Homo sapiens: one gene and its partner. The protein of the gene in region 1 purifies or fractionates together with the protein of each later gene. This does not show direct contact. Each region holds a gene or a part of one and is shown on either strand. Other genes may lie near its edges.

Region 1 (2,814 bases):
GTGGGCACCTGAAATGATCCCTCTAAAAGGCGTAGCCATAAACCCGACTCACAGAAAGCATTCAGTAAATGCCAGGGATTATTATTTCTTATTTGCATTCCTCACTTTAATATTTTAATCTTAAATTTTTAATATTTTAGTTTTTTTTTTTTAACTCACTTTTTTCTTAAGGAAAGATGAAAGTCTCAGAGACAGAGTAACTGAATGCAAAATGTCTGTGCTTTCTCACCTATAAAATGGGGATGGAAAATGACCTCCCATACTCCTGGGTTATTGGGTGGGTGGGGAGGGACCCTGAGCCTCAGAGGACCTGAGCAGCACCTTTGGGAGCCGCCCTCCTCTTGAGGGCAGAGAATGCTGAGCTCAGTCCATCTGCCCTCCCACCACCTGCAGATCTTCTCGCTGGGCTACTGCCCCACTGGGGAGTGGCTGGCTGTGGGCATGGAGAGCAGCAACGTGGAGGTGCTGCACCACACCAAGCCTGACAAGTACCAGCTGCACCTGCACGAGAGCTGCGTGCTCTCCCTCAAGTTCGCCTACTGCGGTGAGCCTTGGATGGGCCCAGGCCTGATGGAGTGGGGTGGGGAACCCAGGGCAGCCTGGCCCAACAGGACAGAAGAGGGGCCCAAAGCTTATAGAATAAGCTAGGCCCTGGAACCAGGCCTCCTGACCCCTGAGCTGGTGCCCCTTCAACACCCTTAAGTGATCTTGTTCCACATCCTTGTTTCTCGGATGCAGATGTCACCATGAGTTATTGAACTCTCAGGACACTAGGCCAGAGCCAGTTCTTGCAGGCTTGGGGCAAAGGAACAGGACAGTAGCAGTGCAGGCAGTTCCTCTCCATGGTTACAACCACTTGCTTTGGCATCTGAGAGCCTTGGATGGGAATGTCTGCTCCTCCACTGACAAGCTGTGCAGTCTTGAACATCTCACCCTCTCTGAACTCTAGTGGATTTTTCTCTCTGGTCGGGAATAGCATGGTGCTCATGGCTTTCAGGGAGCATAAGGGCTTTAACACTTGTAGAGCCCTGGCCGAGTTCCTGCTTGGAGGAAGGTCGCCCACTGACTGCTGTCTTCAGCCAGGTCTCCAGACTCCCAGGGCTTGGATATTTTCAGTATTTCCTGTTGCCTTCCAGTAGTAGAATTTAGAAAGGCCAGTCAACCTTAGTGGCTTTAACAAGAATCTTTTGAGGCAGCGTTATCACTGCAATGAACTTCAAATCCTACCTTTTCCCATCCTAGCCCCGCCCAGCCCTCCCCCTGGATTTCAGAGAAAGGCCTTCTCCAGGTGTCCGCATGTCCCATTTGCAAAATGCCTCTCGAAATTGGAGAGTTATACTAGTTAGCAGTTCTCACTGCTTTTCTATGGCAGCTGGCCATGTCTAGGGCAGGTCTTGCTTTAGAGGGCAGTGAGCTACAACCTGATCATGCCTTTGCCTCCCACCTGCAGGCAAGTGGTTCGTGAGCACTGGGAAAGATAACCTTCTCAACGCCTGGAGGACGCCTTATGGAGCCAGCATATTCCAGGTACTGCCCACCGTCTGAGTCCTCCTCTGGGTTCTACCCAGAGTTGAAACTTGGTGATGGTGATGGGAGTGAGGATAGCAGCAGGAAGAACAGGAGGAGCCTGGAGCCAGGATCAGACCTGCCCTGGTCCCCTCCCCACCCCTACCTGATAGGGGAGCAAGATTGGGTTCTCCCAAGGACCTGGGGACTTCAGCAGGACACACAATCTGCTACTGATGGCTTCTGACCCCCGAGGGCAAGGGCTTCTAAGCCGGGGCGCTTGTCGGATTTGGAGAGTGAGGAATAGCATAAGTGTTTTTGCTCTGGGCTGGATGCTGAGCACCTGCGGGAGGTGCGCTGGGCACCTGGGCACCCGGCAGCCTTGCCCAGAGCAGTGTTGCCTCCTCAAGTGAGTGAGTGTTTCCACCTGCATTCAGCACCAGCAGGGACATGGACAGGAAAGAGAGGAGGAAAGGAAGAGGCTTTTTATAATCTACCAGGATCTGGGGCCTGCCATACTGCACTGATTGGCACACACACGTGTGCACACACACACGTGCACTCTTTCCCATACACGATCAAACTCACACTCATTTACTCACGCACACTTGGTCTCCCCCACACACTTTCTTCCTCTCTCTCTCTTGCGCTTCCACACACACACTTGCATTCTCTCTCACTCCCTCAGCCAACATGCCGCTTTCTGGACCCAGGCTGAAATGTCTGGTGTGCAGCGTGTCAAACCTCATTGTTAGGGTCTCTAGTTACAGCACATGCTTCAAACATCAGGTGGCAATCCTTTTCCTAACTCATCAGGCTGTGGGCCTGAGCTGCTGACGCCAGCTCCTAGCTTGGAAATGCTTCTTCCTATTTGTAAACTCGGAGGAGAAGCTCTTGCTAAAGCGTCCTGTTCTGATCATTATGACTTACTGTAAAGATCACGTGGGAGACTGTTACTGAGCTTTTCCTTATGGAAAAGCAGGTGGGAGGGGAGCTCTACCTGAAAATGCTTCATGGGTGCTTTAAAGCCTCCCCCACCTCCTCTTCACCGCACTGTGCTCCAGGTCGGAGCATCAGAGAGGGGCAGAGGAGGGCAATTGTTGCCGAGAGAACCGAGATGGTGTTGAGCACTGGAAAATGAATTCCTGTCTTTTTTCTCCCTGCACCCCACGCCTTCCTGCTGCTTCTCCTCGTCTTCCTCCTCCAGTCTAAAGAATCCTCGTCTGTCTTGAGTTGTGACATTTCAGCGGATGACAAATACATTGTAACAGGCTCTGGTGACAAGAAGGCCACAGTTTATGAGGTCAT
Region 2 (4,279 bases), on another chromosome or scaffold:
GCTGGGAGGGTTGGTGTTCCAGGATGCCTGGGACAAGGCATGCAGCCCAGAGAGCATCCAGCCAGAGTAAAGGTGCCAGAAGGCTAAGTAGGTTGTACTGGAAGAGGTAGCCCACAGTAATAGCTCCAAACCTTAGACTTTGAATAGATCAGGTACTTGTGTGTATTTGTGACTGGTGTGCCCTTTGACCAATGCTGATGACTCCTTTAACCCATGAAGTTTTTGAAGATTAGAGCTTCATTATCCTTTGAAATATTTGATATGAAAGAGAGAGTTTAAATGGATTAAAAACTTATTTTCACTGTACGAGAATATTCAACATTATATTTTTCAATGAAGGAGAAAGAAGAACTGGTGAATTTTTAAAATACTCCAACAGTTGTAAATTACTTGGTTTTCCATTTTCATCCCTCCTTCTTGGACAAAAATCCCCGCTATGGTAATTATCAAGAACACAGATACTGTTTGTATCATTTTTGAAAATTTGATCTGGAAATTTGTGTCATATTTCAAGAATAAAGTCAGAAACAAACAAGTTTTATTTGTAGGATATAGCTCAAATTTTTCCTTAGGATTTTCAAGAAGATATTATTTGTAAGTTTCCGACATATTCAGTATTTAATATTTTCCTTAATGCTATGTGTATCATAGTTATTATATTTATATTACATAAAGGAATGTAAAAAAATTAAAAATATTCTCCCCAAGCCCTTTACAGATATAGACAAATCCCTTCCACATTACTCTAGCATGCTACACTAATATTGTCATTTTTTTCTCAGCGGGCTATGACACGAAAAAATGTTGAAAAGTACTCTCTAAAAACACCTCTGCTACTAGAAAATATTCAACCTTTTTTATTTCAGGCAAGTCAAATGGGTAGGGGGACAGGAAATGGTGTGCTAAGTAGAGGGAACAACTTTGGCAAAAGCAAAAAGGTGAGCGAGCAAGGAAATTCCTGAAACTACAGGAATATTGGAATAACAGAGAGGACCTTCTGTCTCTTTAAGTTGTTGAAGGCACATCGCTTAATTTTGCAGGGCTGGAAAGAAAGGACCAACAGGTAAAAATTAACTGTCACAAAATTAAAATACATATTTGTATTTTATTTATGTGACTTAACACGTGAAATATGCGAAAGTGATGCGAGGCAAGCCCGAATGCTGTGCCCAGCAAAGCCAAAAAGAAGTTCCGAGGGAAGCCAGGTATCCTGGCTGCCCAGCCACTGCCTTTATCCACCAGCTTGACTCTTTCAGATCATCTTCTCAAATTATCCATAGGAGATTTATCCACATACTCAATAAGAAAAATATTTCTAATTATATCCAACCATTCTTAATATGAATGAGAATTATGCGGGGACGCTAGATTGCCAAGAGGTATTTTGCCAAACAATTCCTTTTGACTTAAGAAAGAAGAGGCAGCTGCATTGTTTCCATAGCTATCCATATAAAAGAGCCCTTGGAATGAGGCTGACTCGTCCTGCTTTAAAAAGCTCCAAGGTAAGTGGGAGCAGGACGGGCCTTTCAAGAGGGACACTGGTCACACCGCCCAGTGTCAGCAGCAGCTGCTAGTTCTGGTACTGCTCCTTCTGGAACTGCACGTTTTACCTCTATGAATTTTGTTACTTCTGTTTACAATAGCAAGCCATGCCATAAATGGGATTTTTTCCCCCTCTTTTTGGTCAACTAATCAAGTGCTTTTCCCTTTTCTTTTATAGAACTGTCTCACTCCCAGGCTACATCTTCTCACTTGCTAACAAGGTAAGATTTGGACTAACCAGTTCCTGGAGGAGAATGCAAGAGGCTCTGGGATGGATTTCTGTCACTTAGCAACCTTTCAGAAAGTGCTTGTCTCAGTAAATACCCTTTAACAACTGTGCTTCAGGAAAGCGGTGAGAAAGGGAGGACTGTCCTTTCAGGACAATGCACACATCCTCATTTACGGCTCAAGCATTGGTGGGGTGACATTTGAGCAGGGGAATCGCTTTGAATAAATATATTGTCTGTGCAGGAAAAAAAGAGTCTACCCTCAGATTCCCTGGCTAAAAATCTCAAATTTGATAAAAATGTATCCTGCTGTTAGAATTCATTTAGTAAACATAATGTCCAACAATGTAAAATGGAAGTAAGACAATCCTTTCTTTAAACTTCTTAAAGCCCTTGTAAAAAGTCACCTTACACAATGCCGAGTGCTGTGGCATTTTTCTTATATATAATAGAGGTATTAATCTGCCCTCCCACTACTTACTGCATTTCTAAAGGGAGAGACTAGAAGAGACGATTCAAATGAGTTTCAAGTAATTTGATCATGTAATGACTGCGGTAGAATTATTTGCCAAACCTTTCATTCTACTGATACCACTGGCAACCTACAGATCACATAGAACGGAGCAAACAGGGCCTGCATGCTTCAAAGGAAAATTTGGAATAGTAAAGGGAGCCCTTAGATGTAGAAGAATGAGGTTAACGTTGGCTACTGTTTTTATCCCTAATTAGTTTAAGGGGGTTAAACTGATGAACTGTATTTAATATGCAAAAAATTATGTCAGAGAAACTATACTAAGCACCTAACCTAAAAGAAAAAAAGGTAAACAAAATTATAATCTCCAATAAGCCACTGAACTTCAACAAATCTGGCTGAACAGGTAAAGGAGGAAATAAAGTTCTTCTACATTACATTCAAGACATGGAATTTTGTGACATGATAATTCATGACATCTCATATATAAATGGTGGCCTGAACAATTTCAAATTACTTTCTCAGTCATCATTTAAACCTCTTTTTCAAAGTATCTTCACATATATCATGGGCTGTGAATTTAGAAAGGCAGAATTTATAATCCCTATTCTAAAGATGGAGTCACTTAGGCTCAAAAACATCAAGTGACATACCCAAGGTCACAAGCTACTTGACAGCAGCACTGGACTGTAATTCAGTTCCCAATGAGAATGTGAGTCCTGGAGGATGAAATAAGACAGTGGATGCAAAGCCCTAAATACGGCATTGGGTACACAGAGACCACCTGATGCATTTTCGTTCTTGTGATTATGTTTGTCTCAGTAACTATAGTATGGTGAACAGTAGACCTGTCTAGTGGAATTTCCAACTGGGCCTATGAAATACAATAAATATTAAGATTTATTGGTATACATGGCAATCCAGACTCTCTAATGTGAAAGTTTTATCTCCTTTAGGACCTCTGAGTTCAGCAGCCATGAGTTCAGACTCAGAATTGGCTGTTTTTGGGGAGGCTGCTCCTTTCCTCCGAAAGTCTGAAAGGGAGCGCATTGAGGCCCAGAATAGGCCCTTTGATGCCAAAACATCTGTCTTTGTGGCGGAGCCCAAAGAATCCTTTGTCAAAGGGACCATCCAGAGCAGAGAAGGAGGAAAAGTGACGGTGAAGACTGAGGGAGGAGCGGTGAGTAGAATCCCAGGAGCTTGCCACATTTTATTGATTTTTGTTGTTGTTGTTTGGTCACTCAATTAATGTAAACGGTTATCTTTCCTGTTTACCAGACTCTGACAGTGAAGGATGATCAGGTCTTCCCCATGAACCCTCCCAAATATGACAAGATCGAGGATATGGCCATGATGACTCATCTGCATGAGCCTGCTGTGCTGTACAACCTCAAAGAACGTTATGCAGCCTGGATGATCTACGTGAGTGTCCCCTGCCAGTGCTCTGTATAATCATCCTCATGTACCCTACCATCCTGCTTCTTCCACTGAGCATAAATAGGTCACAGGTAGTGACCCATTTCACTTTCATTGCAGCATAACTAGTTAAAAGGCTTCATGATTGCTATCGTAAAGCACAGCTCAACAGCCAGCACTTCCTTGTTTTCCCATCCAAAGCTGGGGAAGGCCGCTGTCCATGTTGACTAGGTTTGCCCAGAAACCCTTCAATAGGCATTTGAGCAGTTACTACTTATATTTCAATCACAGGTAATTTTCCCCATTCCTTTTCCCCACTCCAGCCGCAGAATCATCCAGAGTGAAAAGATAAACATGTTTTAACACTTTAAACTATTTTAATTTTTTTTTGAGACAGAGTCTTGCTCTGTGTCCCAGGCTGGAGTGCAGTGGTGCGATCTCGGCTCACTGCAACCTCTGCCTCGTGGGTTCAAGCGATTCTTGTGCCTCAGCCTCCAGAGTAGCTGGGATTACAGGCATGTGCCACCATGCCCGGCTATTTTTTTTTTTTTCGTATTTTTTTTAGCAGAGACAGAGTTTCACTATGTTGCCCAGACTGGTCTCGAACTCCTGGGCTCAAATG

Evidence for each region. Proteins that work in one complex are often made in the same cells at the same time.
Region 2: the proteins of TLE3 (region 1) and MYH2 purify together in Homo sapiens (affinity purification with mass spectrometry; 2 studies listed by BioGRID and IntAct, with this or other methods). This does not show direct contact.

What each region holds. Positions count from the first base shown.
Region 1 is NC_000015.10:70,050,104-70,052,917, reverse strand, and holds part of TLE3 (transducin-like enhancer protein 3), read left to right. Parts: intron 1-393; coding exon 394-544; intron 545-1,450; coding exon 1,451-1,527; intron 1,528-2,570; coding exon of another isoform or gene 2,571-2,633; exon of another isoform or gene 2,634-2,707; intron 2,708-2,713; coding exon 2,714-2,814. UniProt on the Homo sapiens protein: Transcriptional corepressor that binds to a number of transcription factors. Inhibits the transcriptional activation mediated by CTNNB1 and TCF family members in Wnt signaling.
Region 2 is NC_000017.11:10,546,859-10,551,137, reverse strand, and holds the start of MYH2 (myosin-2), read left to right. Parts: upstream 1-1,479; 5' UTR 1,480-1,502; exon of another isoform or gene 1,503-1,579; intron 1,580-1,720; 5' UTR 1,721-1,763; intron 1,764-3,197; 5' UTR 3,198-3,217; coding exon 3,218-3,421; intron 3,422-3,519; coding exon 3,520-3,663; intron 3,664-4,279. UniProt on the Homo sapiens protein: Myosins are actin-based motor molecules with ATPase activity essential for muscle contraction.